Homo sapiens: one gene and its partner. The protein of the gene in region 2 purifies or fractionates together with the protein of the main gene of each other region. This does not show direct contact. Each region holds a gene or a part of one and is shown on either strand. Other genes may lie near its edges.

Region 1 (3,811 bases), on a different chromosome or scaffold from region 2:
TCCAACCTGCTTTCAAAGAACACTGTAAATAACAGCATACATAATATATGCTAATTTATATAAATCAGCACATCTGGTTAAATGTTACTGGGTACCACTAGCACTACAGGGGTTATTGTTGAAGACCCAACTCCAGTCTACCATGCAGAAGAAACCGGTTCCTTCTGCTGGATTTGGGGTGTTTGATACATTTTTTTCCCCTCAAGACAGGAGAAACTATGATGATGTCCAGGTAACTTAAAATATAGTTATTAGCTTGATATCCAAGTGGGCATGTTGTGGAAGACACCCATTGTGGGATACAGCTCAAAACTGATGCATTTAAAGAAAGATTAAGATATATTTTCACATAGCTATTTATTGTGAATGTCAGTAATGGAGAGAAATTAACTCATACTGATTTAAAACTTATTTTCCTCATCAGGTTGAGTCTGTTTCCAAATAATATACTCTGGCTGTAGCTTAAACAGACAACTGAATTCTGGTATTTAACTGACTTTGTGTGAGGTTACCTGGCAGGGAAAGGTATTGGTCCCTTTCTCATGAAAGAATGTAGAAAACAAAATTCTTACTTATCACCATTTGCACAGTCTTTGGTTTACTGAAGATTTTACTGTATTGCTTTAAGGAGAGTAAGCTACATTGCTACAAATACATACCAGCATATTGGCCACCAGCTGTATACAGTGTGGCCTATGAATGAGTGAGAAGCTTCTAGGTAGCTATTAAGGCAGGCCTAGGTAGGAATCCAACACTTTATTAGGAAGGAATTATTCCGAAATGGCTGTTGACTCAATCACCTGGCAGTTCTGGCACTCACCCAAGGGAGAAGAGATTTTGGGTACAATCCTTTTTAAAAAATCTATTTGTTGTTCTGTGATATCATAGACATCCAGGCTTTAAAAAGAAAGATCTGCTCAAAATTAAGAGGAATTTTAACCTACCCTTAATTCGTTGGTCTGTTATTAAGCTAAAAGTAAAAGAAATAAACTTTTAAACTTCATAATATGAGCCAGTTAATGAGACTTTTTTACAAAACTTAAACAAATTTTCAAACGTGCTAAAAAGTAGAATAGTACAATGAACCACCACCATCTATCCATTGCCCAGATATAAGTTATCTACATTTTGCAACATTTGCTTGATCCATCCTTTATTTTTCCCTTGCTAAAGTATTTTAGTGCAAATCTCAGATATCTTGTCATTTTACTCCTACATACTGTCACGTCTTTAAAAATTAAAATTAACATATTCCTTGGTATCATCCAGCATTCATTCCATAATCAAATATTACCAATTGCCTAAAAAAATTAGATTTTTGATCTAAGGTGTACCTAATTGATATACATGTCACTGAACTCCTTAAACAAATACAGCTTTAAATTACTGGTAAAATCTTATTCAGAGTTACTCCACATAAAGTGCTATCATAAAGCCTCAGCCCAAATTAAGTTCACTTCTGTCTTTAATTCTGTAGAAGTATCTGGAAAGGTTGACTATACAAGGGTGGATAGACTCCTTGGAACAGCTGTTATGTACCATCAAAAATAGAACAAATTAGTTTTGGCTTTACTCACTGGTTGGGCAATCACTAATTCTTCATTTTGCAATTTGTGAAGTGGGGTGGGGCTTATGTGTAAGAATTTTCCTTTCAGGGAAATGCTGTAGATAGTTAGGCAAAGGAAAATTATTCTTCATTTCTCTAGATAAAGCGTTCATATGACTCTTTGACATTCACACCCCACCACAACAACTAAGTTTATGTTACTGGCTCTAGTTTTATTTCAAAACAAATGCCGGTTTGGTCTATCTTTGTTTTTCAGCCCCTTTGATATAGTCTAGGTTGCTGAATCTGGATAATTGGGTGAGTAAACCTTTACATAGAAGTTATTCTTATTGAGATGTTTGTGGGCTTACAATTGAAAATCAGACTACACTAATGAGGTGATGGAGCTGGGGATGGGTGGAGTAGGTAAATATGAGAAATCAACTTGGGCAAATGGCCTAGACTCCACACAGATTTGCTAAAGAAATTGTGTAACTATTACTTTCCAGACAGCAGTTTAGTGCTGTTATTGTGCTGAGAGGCAATAGGCAAATAATTTCACTAGCTGTAGACTCAAGTAGATTTAGGCTAGTAATCTGTCTCCACTCTGCAACTTCTAGACTGACCATTTACTAACCCAGTCAGTTGGGTAGTTTTCCTCAAAACAGATAGATGAGTGATAATTGTTGGAGCCAGAGAGCTGGCATTTTCTTCTTTTGTTTGGCCCGGGAGGGAAAACTATGGAGGTGGTGTTTTATGTGCTCTGAAATCAATCACTGATAAAGTCTTAAATGCTTAGTAGTCTATTGTGCTGGCTGAAACTGTTTACAAAGATTCTATATGTAGATAGGAAGACCTTGTATAGGCTGTACACTTGCATTGTGAGCTTTAATAATGTATACGTATAACAGAGACCAGGTCGGTATGTATGGGTGGGCCCTGACCAAGGGTGTGAGACCACAGAGGTCACACCACTTACCAAATCATGTGCCAGTTACAAGACTATGTCTTCCTGGGGCTGCGTTTTCTGATTCACACAGAGGCACCATATGGGCTAGCTAATACATTTAAAGCCAGATGGATTTTAGTCTCATACCTGATAAGAAATTCAGCAAGGATTCCGGGCATGGTGGCTCACGCCTGTAGTCCCAGGACTTTGGGAGGCTGAGGCGGGTGGATCACCTGAGGTCAGAAGTTTGAGACCAGCCTGGCCAACATGGTGAAACCCCATCTCTACTAAAAATACAAAAATTAGCTGTGCATGATGGGAGACGCCTGTAATCCCAGCTACTCGGGAGGCTGAGGCAGAAGAATTGCTTGAACCCAGAAGGCAGAGGTTGCAGTGAGCCAAGATTGCACCATTGTACTCTAGCATGGGCAACAAGAGTGAAACTTCATTTTGAGTAGGGATTTCTTATTTGTCATTGGTTCTGAGAAAAGAATGTAAGATGTATATTTATGTAATATCCTACACCTGATTACTTTTGCTTTTGAATTATTGAAATCTTCAAATGTAGATGGCTGTGCCCTTGAGGGCCTAGGTTATAGTTCAGTATGTTCATTATCTTCCCCAACTTAAGGGTTGAGTTCTGTTATAGCTAATTGTAGATCAATTAGCTTAAGGCTCCTCCCTTTCTGCACTCCTTTCAGCAATTTTCTTGACATAATTGTTTCACAGAGTTTTATATGGTTACGCATTATCTAGGCTGCATTTTTTTTTTTTTTAGATGGAGTCTCACTCTGTCACCCAGGCTGGAGTGCAGTGGCCTGATCTCTGCTTACTGCAACCTCCGCCTCCCGGGTTCAAGCGATTCTTCTGCCTCAGCCTCCCGAGTACCTGGGATTACAAGCATGCACCACCACGCCCAGCTAATTTTTGTATTTTTAGTAGAGATGGGGTTTCCCAATGTTTCCCAGGCTAGTCTCAAACTCCTGACCTCAAGTGATCCGCCCTCCTGGGCCTCCCAAAGTGCTGGGATTACAGGCATGAGCTACCGCGCCTGGCTGCATTGTTTTTTGAAGTTTGTACCATGCTTATTTCCACTTTCATTGCTCACGATACAGGGCAGAACATATAGAAAGTTAAGATGGGTTAAAACAAATTTGGCAGAAGCATTTCCTCTGATAATATGCTCTGCAATCTAGTACCTCACATTACAAAATCAACGTTTTTCAGAAGAGTCAGTGTGTACATAAAATATTTGTGAGTGAAAATAAACTTCTTAGGGTGCCCTCAGCTTGTTTTTCATTGACATTGCATTAGTT
Region 2 (4,561 bases):
GGGACTCCTGCTTCAGGAAACAATATGGCTTACTGTGCCCAGCTCCATGGTGGCAAGGGAAGAGGAAGAATGCCTCCTAGATATCAAGCACCTGGCCCCGCCTCTTGTCTAGGTTTCTCCAGTCAAGGAGTTCAGCTTTCAAAAAGCTTGGATGACCCTCTTGAGGTCCAGGATGTAGTGACATAAGATCCAGGGAGGTCAACACCATCTCACTCGACCATCCTCTTTACCAACTCTCAGCAGCTTTTCTATTCCCCCTGAATTCTCTCACTGAGCAGGATGAGGGAGTGCTGCCTGCATGTTGGACAGAGAGACCCACCTCAGTCACTATACTCTTCTCTTTCCCTTGGACTGTGGAATTTCTCATACTGGTTGGCCAGTTTCCACTTGTTGTGCTGACTTTTGAGTAGTGCAGCGAAGGAAGTTTTTCGGGTGACACTTCTAGATATTTCCTTGCTCTTGGCCTTTCTGGTAGGGGAAGAACTTCCAACTAAGGGATAGACAGGGAAAATGGGCTTGCCCCGAGGAGCTCCCAACAGCTGCCATATTTCCCCAGAGGTATTACTGGTTAGATACTGCCATGGCTTCTTCCCACTGCTGTCCCTGACATTTACCCGAGAAGCCAACCTTTGCACTAGCAATTTGATGACCCCCTGGTGGCCGTGAATGGCTGCAAGGTGCAGCGGGGTATATCCACAACTGGACCTCACGTTTACATCAAGGACAATCCCTGCCTTCTTTGCTCCAGACACCAAGTCCTGAAGGGCCCTGAGGTCACCATGTTTGGCTATCCAGTGCAACGCAGTGTACCCAGTCAAAAAGTCTTTGTGCAAGGCCAGTTGAGGGTCCTCCCAGAACAAAGTCCACACCTGAATCCAGGAGCCACTGGCAAGCTTCACAATCCACTCATGCTCCCTGGCATCTAGTGGAACCAGGGATGATTTGTGCTCAGAAGTTCTGTGGGGGGCCAAGGCTGCAGACCCCTCCCCACTGGGGACCCACAGGCTGTGTCGCCAACCCCGCTCGGCCACAACAGCCTTAACCTCTGCAAGTTTTAGTGATAAACCTGCATCAACCCTTGGGCTGGGTGCCGTTCCTGCCTTGGAGGGCTTCCTGGATCGAGGTGGGCGCCGACTTCTTTTCAGCAAGCCCTCATCGAGGTACTCCTCATCAGAGGAGGACAATTTGGCTCTCCCTGCCAGAGAGCTCCTCCTGAGGGACCTCCTTAACTTAGGAACTGGCCAAGGCAAAGGCTTCAGGGGGTGGCCTGCAAGGCCATTAGCCCCTGCAGGGACCTGCTGAGAGATGTGACCATCCCCTCTGTTTCTGAGACCCTGAGGGCTCCGGCTGGGGCTGCCCTCCTTCCGAGATACAGAAAGGCCCCCAGCTGGATTCCTGAGCTTCCCCCTATCTGGGGTTCCCAAGACAACCTGCAGCCCCTCTTCAGAAGCCCCCGGGGAGTCTTTGGGCCCACTGCTGCTCTCCTCACTGCCATCACTCTCCTGGTCCACAAAGTCATCCAGATCTTGGAGGGACAGCTGACAACGAATGCTGCGAAAGACAGTCAATGAAGGGTTCCCCGCCCAGGATTCCCAGGACTCATCCGGAACAACAGGAAAGAGAGAGTGCGAGGAAAGACAGGGGTCTGGCGGCTCTGAATTAGGCTCCGTGGAGCCGGGTTCCAAGGGCAGCTGGAGGAAGTTGTCTGGCAGCACCGACCAGGCGCGGATAGGGCCCTGATCACGGGCCTCGGGCACCTGCGGGTGCCTGGCCACCCACTCTCGAGTGCGCTGCTGCTGCTGCTGCAGGGTCGAATAATGCAGGGAGCTGGGGGTCAGCAGCTCCGGCCGGTCTCCGCGGGGAGCGGGGCCGGGCAGGAGAGCAGGCGGGGAAGCCCTGCTTGTCGCAGCCTCGACGGTGGCGGGAGGCGAGTGAGCCACTGCAGGCACAGGCGCCGGCTCAGCTAGCGCGCCTTCTTCCCGCTCCCTGGAAGCCCCGCGGTCATCCTGGGCAGGCAGAGCCCGTGCCGGCTTCTCCTCCGCGGTGGCCGAGTGCGGGAGTGCGCCGAGCTCTCCCGGCAGTACAGCCAGGTTGTTCTGGAGGCATTCCCAGCAGCAGCGGCCCTGCGTCTTCGCCGCCGCGCAGCTCGCTCTCGCCTGGGCCCCTGCCGCTGCAGCTGCGGGCACCGGCGGCCTCTGTCCGGGACTGCCCTTCGATCCGCCGCCCTTCCCGGGCGCCCTACGGGAGTCGCTGCCCGGGAGTCCATTGCAAGCTGCGTCGGCGGCTCTGGCTGCTGCACCTGCTGGCTCCTCCTCCGGCTCCTTCTCGCGCCGCCGCCGCCTGGGCTGCTGCTGGGGCGGCTCCCCCCGGCGCGCGCCTCGCGGGGAGCAGGGCGCAGCTCCCCCTGCACTGGGGGCGGCCGCGGGCGGCTCGCGGGGTCGCTGCAGCCCCTCCTCCCCCAAAAGGTCCCTGTATCTCCTCTTGAGCACCACGTACTTGGTGCCGTCGGGGTCCTGGCGCACTGCGGCGACCGAGTTGACGAAGCCCTTGAAGAGCTCGCGGCGGTGCTGGTGCTGGCTGGGGGACGCGTCGGGGTCTCGGAGAAAGCTCTTGAAGTGGCTCAGCAAGGCAGCGTTGGTCACGCGGCCCCCAGCCTGGCACAGAAAGTCCAGTAGTGCCTCCTGGCTCAGCTCTCGGGCCATCGCTGCCTTGTCCTCCGCCCCAGAGGTGTCTGAGTCTCGCCCTCCCGGGGCTCTCCCCAGCCAGAGGAAACCCTGGCCGGGCGAGTGTCACCTGCGCCCGGGGCGGCACTAGCCGCCCCCATCAGCCGCGGAGGCCAGCGCTGCCCGCAGCCCGTGAGCGCGCCAGGAGGGCCGTGGGTCCCCTCCGGGTGGCCCCAAGGCTGAGTCCCCGCGGCAGTCTGCGTGAGAGAGGGCGGCTCCGAGGCCGCCCCTGCGCGACTCTAGCCTCTCGCAACGAGTCCTCACAGCGAAAGTTCCCGGGATAGGGCCGAGTCGGTTTCACCTGCGCCCTGGCGGCACCTCCTCCCTGCCTCTGGGGGAAGGGTCAGGCCCGCCTCCTCGTGTCCCTCCGCCCCCTGAGGTCTCCCCCACCCCCTGCCACCCATCCCAGAAGAGTCAGGCCGGAGAGCCAGCCGGTAGGTGAGGTTGGCGGCGAACCGAGCCGGCAGCGAACTGCTCTGCGGCCGGGGAAGTGGAAGGCAGGTAGGCGACCGGCCGTTCCTCTAAGTCTCCGCCACGCAGGAAACAAAAGCGATAGAAGGTCCGTTCCTGTCCTCCGGTGCTTTGATGAGTTCAGGCTGAAGCCGATGGGGGAGGAGGAGAAGCTGCAAGTTAACAGGCAATCTGAGTTATCTTTCTTTATTAACGCTGTAGAGGAGTACTTCAGATTTCTCGAGGCTGTATTGAGGTCCGCAAAACTCACTTTGCATCCAAACTAAATTTTTCTTAATATAGAAATACTTTCTGGGCCGCTTCTCCGGCGCCCCCTCCAAGGGGTCCGAATACATCCAAGTCTATACTGAAAAGAGAAATCACTCTGAAAATTACTACTGGGCAATATTGGTTTGGGACTTTTTCTTTCATACTTGTCTTTCCTTCATACTTGTCTCACATTAAGGTGCTGGAAAAAAAAAATCACTTTGATAGCTTCTTGCCCCCGGCGGCTAAAATGAACTAGGAATTATGTCTCGCCAGTTAAGGTATTTGATGTGTAGCATTAGTTTGCTTTTATTTACTCTAAAATTTGTGAACAGCAGAGATTTGTACAGTGTTTTGTATTGGCTTGGTGAAGTGCTTCCTTTCAGAATGTAAGGTTCAAAATGCAGACTAGAGCTGTCTTTAACAGCACCTTTTCCCCCTAACAGCTGGGATCCCTCTTCCTTTTTCTCTCTCCACATGTTGACCCTTCTGTCTTTGATGTGAGATCCTGGATGTCCCTCACTGTTCCTTATCAGTCCTGTTGACATGCCTGAGATAGTTTTCACTGTCATTATCTCTTTACCTGTTTTAGTTCCAAGCCTTCTCTCATTCTTTTCTTTAACTTGGCCTTCCCATTTCTTTCTGTTACACGACATCCTTGTTTACCTTCGGCCTCTACTGACAGGAAATATGTCTGTTTCTCAGATCCTCTCATGTCCACTGTATTTCCCATTCAAAAACCTCGATTTTCTCCTTCCCTGTAATTTGCCTCTCTTTTCTCATGGACTCTTCTCATCTTTTCACTTTTCCTTTTGCTCTTCTATTTCTGATTACTCATAGTTCCTATACTTCTCGCCAAGAAAGAGTATTGAAAGTATGTGTGTTGGCCCTACAATTGTTGACAAAGACATGTTTTAGCATGGACCAATCTTAGTGACTGCCCTATAGACCACATTAACTGAGCTTGATTTTAAATCCCCAAAAATACCCTAGCACTTTTCCAGGAATGAATCTTTGGTTTTACATTATCTAGGTCAGAAAAAAAGAACTGGAAACATTTTTGTCTATTTTTGGCATTTTCTAGGATCCAAACCCAATACTGGGTTGAGAGAGGGATAGTG

Evidence for each region.
Region 1: the proteins of SOWAHB (region 2) and DIAPH2 purify together in Homo sapiens (affinity purification with mass spectrometry; one large-scale study listed by BioGRID and IntAct). This does not show direct contact.

The regions. Positions count from the first base shown.
Region 1 is NC_000023.11:96,691,089-96,694,899, forward strand, and holds part of DIAPH2 (protein diaphanous homolog 2), read left to right. Parts: intron 1-3,811. UniProt on the Homo sapiens protein: Could be involved in oogenesis. Involved in the regulation of endosome dynamics.
Region 2 is NC_000004.12:76,895,148-76,899,708, forward strand, and holds the start of SOWAHB (ankyrin repeat domain-containing protein SOWAHB), read right to left. Parts: upstream 2,998-4,561; 5' UTR 2,703-2,997; coding exon 321-2,702; 3' UTR 1-320.